Linked DNA regions of Homo sapiens. The protein of the gene in region 2 purifies or fractionates together with the protein of the main gene of each other region. This does not show direct contact. Each region holds a gene or a part of one and is shown on either strand. Other genes may lie near its edges.

Region 1 (3,750 bases), on a different chromosome or scaffold from region 2:
AAAATAATAATTTTATTGCATTGCATTTTATCAAAGAATCAATAAATTGGAAATAGAAAAAAAAGAACTAATCCTTCCTTATGCATAAAGAAGCACTGATCTAGCCAACATTTAAACTTTGTTTATTCCACAAAAAATGCCCGTGTTCATGGCAGAACTTTTAGAAAAGTGCAGATAAGCAAAAAGAGAAAAATCCCCTGCAATTCTACCTCTAGAGAAAAGTACTGTTGGCCGGGCATGGCGGCTCACACCTATAATCTCAGCACTTTGGGAGGCTGAGATGGGCAGATCACTTGAGGTCAGGAGTTCGAGACCAGCCTGGCCAACACAGTTAAACCCCACCTCTACTAAAAATACAAAAAAAATTAGCTGGGCGTGGTGGTGCGTGCCTGTAATCCCAGCTACTGGGGAGGCTGAGGCAGGAGAACTGCTTGAATCCAGGAGGAGGAGGTTGCAGTAAGCCGAGATAGCGCCACTTCACTCCAGCCTGGGCGACAGAGCAAGACTTCATTCCAAAAAAAAAAAGAAAGAAAGAAAAGAGAAAAGTACTTGGGACATGGATTTTTTGTTAGGTACAATGCACACCAATAGGAGAAAATAGTACCATTCATGTTAGATAGACAGACAGACACATACACTGTATAGAGTGCCACCAAATCTTTTCTAGCCCAAGGAGTTTCCTGGGCTCCACGAGCACAAGCTACACCTTCTTGCTTTCCTAACCTTGTCCCTTTACCTGAAAGGCTGTGCTCTCCCCACAGCCTCCCCGCACCCAAATCTACAGGGTTCTCCTTCCCTCTCCCACTGAGGCTGTCTTGTCCAGATTGCAGTCTCTCTTATGTAAGTTATCTGTGGACCTGTCTTACCTCATGCCAGTAGACAGAGCTTCTGCAGGGCAAGGTCCAGAGTTGGTTCATTTTTGCCTCCCCTACAGTGCTCTGTCACACACTGACCTTGGCACACAGTAAATATTTAATTACGTGAAGTACAAAAATATGCTCCAAATGCCAAATTAGTGGACACAAGACAGAAGGAAGCTGGGGCATTAACATTTGTTTCTTGAGCACCTACTGTGTGCCAGACCATGCCTGGCATTTTCACAGGTGATTTCTCATCAAGTGGGCACTACAGTCCTGGCAGGCAGGGCTGATTGAGTGCATGGAGCCTGACCAGAAGTGAGCCATGGCTCCAATGGGAGTGAGGAGGTCAGAAGAGGCATATTAGAAGAAGACAGGCGCCAGGCGTAGTGGCTCACACCTGTAACCCCAGCACTTTGGGAGGCTGAGGCGGGTGGATCACTTGAGGTCTGGAGTTTGAGACCAGGCTGGCCAATGTGGTGAAACTCCGTCTCTACTAAAAATACAAAAATTAGGCCAGGCACGGTGGCTCACGCCTGTAATCCCAGCACTTTGGGAGGCCGAGGTGGGTGGATCACTTGAGGTCAGGAGTTTGAGACCAGCCTGACCAACATGGTGAAACCCCATCTCTACTAAAAATAAAAAAAAATTAGCCGGGTGTGGTGGCACATGCCTGTAATCCCAGCTACTTCAGAAGCTGAGATAGGAGAATCCTTTGAACTTGGGAGGCGGAGGTTGCAATGAGCCGAGATCGTGCCATTGCACTCCAGCATGGGCAACAAGAGAGAAACTCCATCTCACAATAAATAAATAAATAGAAATAAAAATAAAAATACAAAAATTAGCTGGGTGTGGTGGTGTGCACCTGTAGTCAGAGTTCCTCTGGAGGCTGAGGCAGAAGAATCGATTGAACCTAGGAGGCAGAGGTTGCAGTGAGCCGAGAGTGCACCCATTGCACTCTAGCCTGGGCGACAGTGTGAGACTCCATCTCAAAAAAAAAAAAAAAAAAGAAAATGACAGGGCGTTGAACTTGGTTTTGCAGGATGAGTGGGTTCAGCCTGGTGGAGAGAAGGGGGCCAATATTTCCTTAGGAAGGGAAGAAAGGGGCAAAGGTGGGGAAGGAGGATGGCTGTGGACTGTTTTGAGGAGCTGAGGCAAGTGTGTATGGAGGGGATGGATAAGAGGGGGCCAGGCTGAGGCTGTGGGAAGATTTCTGAGCAGTGGGTAGGGTTAGTGGCCTGGTTGACACCTGGCTTTGGGAAGATCAATCCTGCAGGCTGAGCAGAGCAGACAGGAAGCAGAGGAATGCAGAGGCTGGGGAGGCTGCGGGCAGAGAAGGAAGGGGCGTCTTAAGGCAGCCAACAGGCAGTGTCTCAGGGCGGATGCTCTAGGCCTGCCTGCCTGCCTGATCTAAAGGGCAGCGGAGACAGGGACAGGGCAGGAAGAGGGCAGTGGGGAGCTGGGCTTGGAGAGGAGGTGGAGAGCTCTGTTTTAGACACTTCCTTTTGGAGGTGCCTGGGAGACTATCCCATAGCCAAAGGATGGGGAGGGGCGGGGAAGAGCCACAAAAATGGGGGCTGGCAGGCCTGAGTCCAACTGCTTTTTGTATGAATGGGACCTCAAGGTCCAGAGAGGGGCAAGGACTTACCCAAAGCCACACAGCGAGCAAAAGGACTAGAACCCTGGTGTGTTAACTCCCAGGTGAACTGGGAGATCCTTTGGTAGGTTGGAGTCAAGTCAGATGTCGAAGCCAGGTCTAATCCCTCTAATTTGCTTCCCAGAAAACCACCTTTGTAACAGGTCCTTGGCTTCTGGAATCCAAAGCTGCATTCCCGTGGCCTCAACTCCTCATTGCTTTCAGGAGGCTGAGGGAACAACTGCCTCCTGCTTATCAGAAACAGTGGGGCAGGGCTGCCTAGGAACTGGCTGCCCTTCTCCCCATAGTCTCTTAGGCCCCTTTAGCTGCCTTCAGCCATCTCAGGGGCCCATTTTATCCAGTCTTCCTCCTTGGTAGGGTGGGGTTATCACAAGTCACACAGGGGCCAGCCCTGCTGCCACACCCCTGGGTGGGCCAGCCCCATCACCTAACACAGGGGCAGGCCAGGCCTCCCCAGTCATGTCTCAACCTCCAAACAGACAATTATTCAGTAGATATGAGGTCCCAGCTGCCCATTTCGTACTCGATTTTGCTCTCATGTCTGCCAGGAGTTTTTTTTCCTTTTCTTTTTTTTTTTTTTTTTTTTTTGAGACAGAGTCTGGCTCTGTCACCCAAGCTGGAGTGCAGTGGTTCGATCTCGGCTCACTGCAACCTCCACCTCCTGGGTTCAAGTGATTCTCCTGCCTCAGCCTCCCAAATAGATGGGACTACAGGCATGCATGACCATGCTTGGCTAATTTTTGTATTTTTAGTAGAGACAGGGTTTCGCCATGTTGGCCAGGCTGGTCTCAAACTCCTGACTTCAAGTGATCCGCCCGCCTCTGCCTCCCAAAGTGCTGGGATTACAGGCGTGAGCCACCGCACCTGGCCGAGAGAATATTTTTGCATATTGAGAGAATTACCAAAATGTAAGCCAGTTGCCCAAGACCACATAGCTACTTAGTGACTGAGCCAGAATTTGAATTTGTTCTGGACTCCAAATGCTGGGTTTTATATACTGTATTTCATAATACTGATAAACACCTGATTCAGTAGGCGTCTCTCTGCCCATACTGTTTCTGCTTTGGGTGCTGGAGAGACAGAAGAAACAAAAGAAAAACATACTGAGTGTATTCGTTCTGTGCTGGGCACAGCACTGAAGTACTTGGTAGTAGTATCTCATTTCATTGCAAGAATTGTCCTAACTTTTAGTGATAAGGAAACAGAGGCTCTGAGCGGTTCAGTGACTTGCTTAAT
Region 2 (3,108 bases):
ATTATAGTGGCTACCCTGATTTTGAGGAAAACCCGTTTCCCACTCTGGAAGAAGAGTTGAAATAAACTCTTCAGGCTGGAGGTGAAGCTGAAATGGGAGCGTGTGGGTCCACAGCTTTGAAGGCGCTGGGGAGAGTGAGAGGCGTGGGGACGGCTCCCGCGGCAGGAGGTGGCATTGCCGTTGGGGCTTTGAGGATAAATAGGAGTTCGCCAACGGGGAGACATCCAGGCTGAGGCCACGAGACTTGCGCTGTAAGGTAGAGTGCAGCCAAAGCGCATGGGGGGCATTTGAGGGAACTGCCTCTTCTCCAAATGGCCAGGAAGCCCAGCCTCTCCCTCTACCCCAAGTCCCGGCCCTTCAAATCATTCATTCCACCCAGACTCACCTGTGGCTTCAGCTTTTGCTCCTCCTCCCAATGGTGAGGTGGACATTTTCCCCTTGATCCCCCCATCCCCCAAGACCTCCTCTCTCCCCACAAAAGCATCAAAGCAAAGCACGCCCTCATCGACGCCAACTCTCTTGGCCACCTTCTCTTCGTACAAACAGAGGTTTTATTGCGTTTGGTCCACAGTCGTATTTCACATTATCTCACGGAGCAGGTCCCCTGGGTGGGGGGTCCCTGTGCAGTACTTGGCGGGGCATGTGGCCGGGGAAGATGGAGCAGTATAAGCTGGTCGGGCCCAGAAGGGAGGAGGGCTGGGGGCTCCTTAAAACCTACTGAGGGGCTGGGCACGGTGGCTCACACCTGTAATCTCAGCGCTTGGGGAGGCGGAGGCGGGCGGATCACACCTGAGGCCAGGAGTTCGAGACCAGCCTGGCCAACATGGGGAAACCCCATCTCTACTAAAAATACAAAAATTAGCCGGGCGTGGTGGAGCACCTGCAGTCCTAGCTACTCAGGAGGCTGAGGCTGGAGAATCGCTTGAGCCCGGAAGGTGGAGGTGCAGTGAGCCAAGATGGCGCCACTGCACTCCAGCCTGGGCAACAACCACAACTGAAAAAAAAATCTACTGAGGCCAGAGTGGGTTGGGGCGGGGAGCATGGAGAGGGGGTCAGGCTTAGCCCCAACAACTCAGAATTTCACTTCCTTGTACGGCCCTCACTTTCTCCACCTGGCCCCGGGGCAGGTCTGAGGGTCTGAAGTCTGTTGGTCTGAAGGTCCTAGGCAAATCCAGTCACTTGGGAGCCGGAGATATTTAACATCACGGCCCGGTCCCCTTTCCCAGGGGACTCATTTCCTAGCACTCTCTCCACTGTCCTTGCCCCACCCCTGGGGGAAAAAATGTATTTTTCTTTTGTGAATACTTCCTGAAACTTGCGGGCATAGAAACCACAAACTGCTCAGCTGACAAAAGGGGGAAGAGGCGAGGCAAGCAGAAACCGTCGGGGACCGGTTCCTTCCAAGCCCAGGTCTCTTCTTCCCAGCACAGCCTGAATGTGCCAGCAGGGACCCTCGCCCTACACGTATTGGGATATGGCCTTGACCCCTTCCCCCACAGCCCAGTGGCTCAGCCTTGCGAAGGATCAAGGCAAAGGGGAAAAAAGCTCTGCTGCCTGATCCCACGCTGACACTCACAGACCCTTGGTTGACTGGCAGCACTGAACGGGTTAAGAAAAAAAAAAAAAAGATGAAAACACAGAAAAACCCAAAAACCCAGATGGGCAGACGATGTGGGGAGAGAGCGTGCTGGGAGCCTCAGTAGCCGGCCTCCTCCTGGTAGTAAGGGGGATATTCAGGGACCTCCCCCGGGTCCGGGCAGTCGCCGGTGCCCGAGGGAGCCCCATCGGCCACTGTGCCTTGCGGGCAGTACTTGGGGTCATATATCTGCCGGCCCAGGCCGAAGACCTGGCCGCTCTGGTTGGCGCCCTGCGTGTAGCCCATCTGCAGGGACATGGAGGAGTTGTCACACTTGTCGGTTCCCAGCTTGGTATCATAGATGTGCCGCCGGGTCCCGGGAGCCGTCATGCCCACCTGGAGAGGAAGGAGGGGTGGAGCAGGTCATGGTGGAGAGAAGAGGGGACCTTCACTGGGTGCACTGGCTCACGCCTGTAATCCCAGCACTTTGGGAGGCCAAGGTGGGAGGATCACCTGAGGTCAGGAGTTCCAGTCCAGCCTGGCCAACACGGTGAAACCCTGTCTCTCCCAAAAATACAAAATTAGCTGGGCGTGGTGGCACATGCCTGTAATCCCAGCTACTCGGGAGGCTGAGGTGGGAGGATCACCTGAGGTCAGAAGTTCAAGACCAGCCTGGCCAACACGGTGAAACCCCATATCTACTAAAAATACAAAAATTAGCCGGGCGTGGTGGCGGGCGCCTGTAGTCTCAGCTACTCGGGAGGCTGAGGTGGGAGGATCACCTGAGGTCAGGAGTTCAAGACTAGCCTGACCAACACAGTGAAACCCCGTCTCTACTAAAAATACAAAAATTAGCTGGGTGTGGCCGGGTGCGGTGGCTCACACCTGTAACCCTAGCAGTTTGGGAGGTCAAGGCGGGTGGATTGCCTGAGCTCAGGAGTTCGAGACCAGCCTGGGCAACATGGTGAAACCCCATGTCTACTAAAAATACAAAAATTGGCCGGGTGTGGCAGCATGCACCTGTAGTCCCAGCTACTCGGGAGGCTGAGGCAGGAAGGAGAATCTCTTGAACCCGGGAGGCAGAGGTTGCAGTGAGCCGAGATCGTGCCACTGCACTCCAGCCTGGACAACAGAGTGAGATCCTATCTCAAAATAAATACATAAATAAAATAAATAAAGATTAAAAAAAAAGAATTGGGTGGACCTTTGGGCAGTCCTTAAGGGAAAATGACACAGGGTGAGGTAGTAACTTCCCTAGAGACCCACAGCCAGGTGGAAATGACAGAGGCTGAAATCCAAGGCGGAGACAGAGAGCGGGGAGGGAAGCCGGAGGTGGTCTAGGGAAGGGGCTGAGACTGAGAGTGGGGAGAGAAGCTGGAGGTGGCCCCAGGGAGGGGCCGAGACCACAGGGTGTAGAGGGGCAGGGAGAGGAGTCGGGGGCACCCGGGCGAGCCCCACCTGGCTGGCACACTTGTTCGTGCCCATCTGGAGGCTGATGGTCGAGTGGTCCATGGGGGGCAGGATATGGTTCT
Region 3 (3,750 bases), on a different chromosome or scaffold from region 2:
TACATTTTTTGGCCACTCATTCATCATTGCTAACCCTCAACTTAAAACTTGACTGTTTGAGTTAAAAAGACCTCATAAAGTTTTCCTACTTCATAGCATAGTTAACAACCATGACTCTGAAGTCACATTTCCTTTGTTCAAATCTTACAATGTCACCATCTTGGTCAAGTAACCTTGTAAAATAAGGATAAGTTTAAAACAGTAATTGCACGCAGTAATGGCTAACATTTACTTTAACATTATTTACTAGCCACTTAAAATGTATTAGCAAAACAGAACAGTAAAACAGTCAAATGCAATGCAATGAAAACAGCTGGAAACTGGACATGTGTGCCGTGAGACGTAATTCTATGAAGAAAGAGCGACACCCAGTGGTAAAAGATCTCTATACATCCTGAGTATCATTACATTCAAAAAGTACAAGTAACCACTGGAGAACTGTTATGTTAAGCGTGCTTGGCCTCCTGAATACATTACTATTTATGATCAAAGATAAAAGACACCTTGTAAAATATTTTAAGTAGTGTATTCAACTCTGTTTACAATTTTGGAAGGACAAAAAAATCTGTATCCAAATCAGAGTAGCCAAGGAGTTATAAAAGCTAAAATCTGGCCAGGCAAGGTAGCTCACACCTCTAATCCCAGCACTTTGGGAGGCCGAGGCGGGTGATCACCTGAGGTCAGGAGTTCGTGACCAGCCTGGCTGACATGGTGAAACCCTGTCTCTATTAAAAATATCAGAAATTAGCCGGGCGTAGTGGTGGGCACTTGTAATCCCAGCTACTCAGAAGGCTGAGACAGGAGAATCGCTTGAACCCAGGAGGCAGAGGTTGCAGTGAGCCGAGATCGCGCCATTGCACTCCAGCCTAGGCAACAAGAGTGAAACTCCGTCTCAAAAAAAAAAGCTAAATTCTACGTCTGATAATACATATACTGAATTAAGGCTTAGAATGCATGAAAGTTAATTTTTATTATCAGGACTTCAGTGATAAGTGATATTTTTAGATGATAGTAAGCTACAAAATTCAAAGGCTGACCAGTTACTAATCACATATGAGAATAAGATAAAAATCATTATGGCTAATGTTTTTGAATTTTTTTGAGACAGTCTTTTGCTCTGTCACGCAGGCTGGAGTGCAGTGGTGTGATCTCAGCTCGCTACAACCTCCACCTCCTGGGTTCAAGCAATTCTGGTGTCTCAGCCTCTCTAGGAGTTGGGATTACAGGTGCACGCCACCACGCCTGGCCAATTTTTATATTTTAGTAGAGACGGGGTTTCACTGTGTTGGCCAAGCTGATCTCAAACACCAGACCTCAAGAGATCCACCTGCCTCGGCCTACCAAAGTGCTAGGATTACAGGTGTGAGCCACCACATCCAGCCCTTGTTTTTGAATTTTATATATGAGAAACTAATACTGAGAAATCTTGATCTGATCTAGAAACGAAAATAAATTTGGAAAAATGGAGGAATTTGGCTCTAAAAGTATTCATATTATGCCCAAAGTGGTTTTGGCACTAATGAGAGAGGATTTCAGCAGTACAATTTAGCCCTATTTAGATAATTCCTAACTGCTGGCTTATGTATATGACACCATTTGCTGTCTTTACCAAGATCAGAATATTATAATGGATGAAATAGTGATTTGCCTTGTGTAATCTATTGTCTTTCACTATCTAAACCAAAACTGCTAAAAACACAATTTTAAAGAGTATTTCTTTCATTTTAACTATTAAATTTCAATCAAGGTAGCATGCTAAAATTGACACTGTTTTCACAAGTTTGGTGGCCAACTATGTATTCTCAAAAAGTCTTTTAAAAAAAAAGGAGTTTCCCTCAAACAGCAGTTAACTTAGTAAATACAAATGTTACTTCTTCCCAGTTCTCTTTAATTTCTTTTAAATTCTCATTATTTAACTAGCAAACATCAACTAATTAGAACTTCAAATAAAAATAAACGATATGCCCAAACAAAAAAAAATCATAATAAAACAAACAACAAAAGTCCTCCAAAGTACCTCTAACTTGTGTGATGCATTCTCTGGTAAAGACTCAAAAATTAAATCTTCGAGTGATTTTGGCTGGTTGGATTTAGCCTTTGGTGGAAACAAAGATGGTGGGTGACCTTGAGCCTGGAAACCCTCAAGTTCTCCAGCTGGGTTCTGCTGCATTAGTTTTAACCTTTTCCTTTCTTTCCGGATTTCCTTTGCTTTTCGACATGGAGGCTTACTCAAATCAGCCCCTTTGCCTAAAAAGAATTTTAAAATATTAGACCAATCACATTTGGTTCTAGAAAAGTTTTTTCACATGTCTCAAAGATTCTACAGTGTAAGTCCAAAGAGTTTCAATGGTTAGGCTAGCTTTGGGGTAGATGTTTCAGAGGATCCTGATACAGAGCTGTAAGTGGATCTAAAATTCTACCTTAGAAGTGGGAGTTGCTAGAGAAAGTAAATAGCACAGAAACTTTCCAAGGTGGCTCTTACTGCTGAAAATCTTTTTTTTCTTTTTTTTGAGACAGAGTCTCGCTCTGTCACCCAGGCTGGAGTGCAATGGCATGATCTCAGCTCACTGCAACCTCCGCCTCCCAGGTTCAAGCAATTCTCCTGCCTCAACCTCCCGAGTAGCTGGGACTACAGGTGTGTGCCACCGTGCCTGGCTAATTTTTGTATTTTCAGTAGAGATGGAGTTTCACCATGTTGGCCAGACTGGTCTCAAACTCCCTTGGACAGACTGGTCTCAAACTCCTGACCTCGTGATTCACCCACCTTGGCCTCCCTAAGTGCTGGGATTACAGGAATGAGCCACCAGGCCCGGCCCAAATATCTTTTTTTAAAAAAAAACATTCATCCACTTCTCTGCCTTTGTGAGGAAGAACACAATCAAATCAAAGTACCTGCTGCATTAAAAGGACACTGCTATCTCTGCCCAACATTTCTGAGGGACATTTCTCTGAAAGCACTGGTAACATAAATACTTAGGAACCAGGTATAAAGGAATACTGATCCCAGCGCAAACACTGACAGGTTTTTTTAAATTAAAAGAATCCTTGTGCACCTGGAATTCTAGCACTTTGGGGGGCTAAGGCGGGCAGATCACCTGAGGTTGAGAGTTCGAGACCAGCCTGGTCAACATGGTGAAACCCCATTTCTACTAAAAATACAAAAATCAGCCAGGTGTGGTAGCACACACCTGTAATCCCAGCTACTCAGGAGGCTGAGGCATTAGAATCACTTGAACCCAGGAGGCAGAGGTTGTGCTGAGCTGAGATGGCACCACTGCACTCCAGCCTGGGCGACAGAGTGAGACTCTGTCTCAAAAAACAAAAAAGGAATCCTTGCTTAGTTGAAGGTATCTGTGTCTTTCTCCAAATACTGCAGGTATTTGGGTCTCATTAGTTCAGCTGTAGTTAATCAGAGTTTTGTTCTAATTAACAGACCAAATATCAAACTGACATCCCTTTAAAATAAAAAAATTTTTACTATTATAAACTAAATAAAAATACTTAGAAAAAAACCTGGAAAGGAGACACCATGGTAACAGTCATTTTACTTTGTTTCAGAAACAGAGACAGGATTTACCTTTCTTTGTAGTGTTCTCTTTTCTCCAAATTTTCTTTTTTTTTTTTGAGACAGAGTCTCGCTCTGTCACCCAGGCTGGAGTGCAGTGGCGCCATCTGAGCTCACTGCAACCTCTGCCTACCGGACCATTCGAGCAATTCTCCTGCCTCAGCCTCCAGAGTAGCTGGGAATAC

What was found.
Region 1: the proteins of CNN2 (region 2) and ALAD purify together in Homo sapiens (affinity purification with mass spectrometry; 2 studies listed by BioGRID and IntAct, with this or other methods). This does not show direct contact.
Region 3: the proteins of CNN2 (region 2) and ATE1 purify together in Homo sapiens (affinity purification with mass spectrometry; 3 studies listed by BioGRID and IntAct, with this or other methods). This does not show direct contact.

What each region holds. Positions count from the first base shown.
Region 1 is NC_000009.12:113,394,541-113,398,290, forward strand, and holds part of ALAD (delta-aminolevulinic acid dehydratase), read right to left. Parts: exon of another isoform or gene 3,538-3,750; intron 2,735-3,537; exon of another isoform or gene 2,506-2,734; intron 1,916-2,505; exon of another isoform or gene 918-1,915; coding exon of another isoform or gene 867-917; intron 1-866.
Region 2 is NC_000019.10:1,036,489-1,039,596, reverse strand, and holds the end of CNN2 (calponin-2), read right to left. Parts: coding exon 3,035-3,108; intron 1,973-3,034; coding exon 1,697-1,972; 3' UTR 532-1,696; downstream 1-531. UniProt on the Homo sapiens protein: Thin filament-associated protein that is implicated in the regulation and modulation of smooth muscle contraction. It is capable of binding to actin, calmodulin and tropomyosin. The interaction of calponin with actin inhibits the actomyosin Mg-ATPase activity.
Region 3 is NC_000010.11:121,900,374-121,904,123, forward strand, and holds part of ATE1 (arginyl-tRNA--protein transferase 1), read right to left. Parts: intron 2,248-3,750; coding exon 2,018-2,247; intron 1-2,017. UniProt on the Homo sapiens protein: Involved in the post-translational conjugation of arginine to the N-terminal aspartate or glutamate of a protein. This arginylation is required for degradation of the protein via the ubiquitin pathway. Does not arginylate cysteine residues.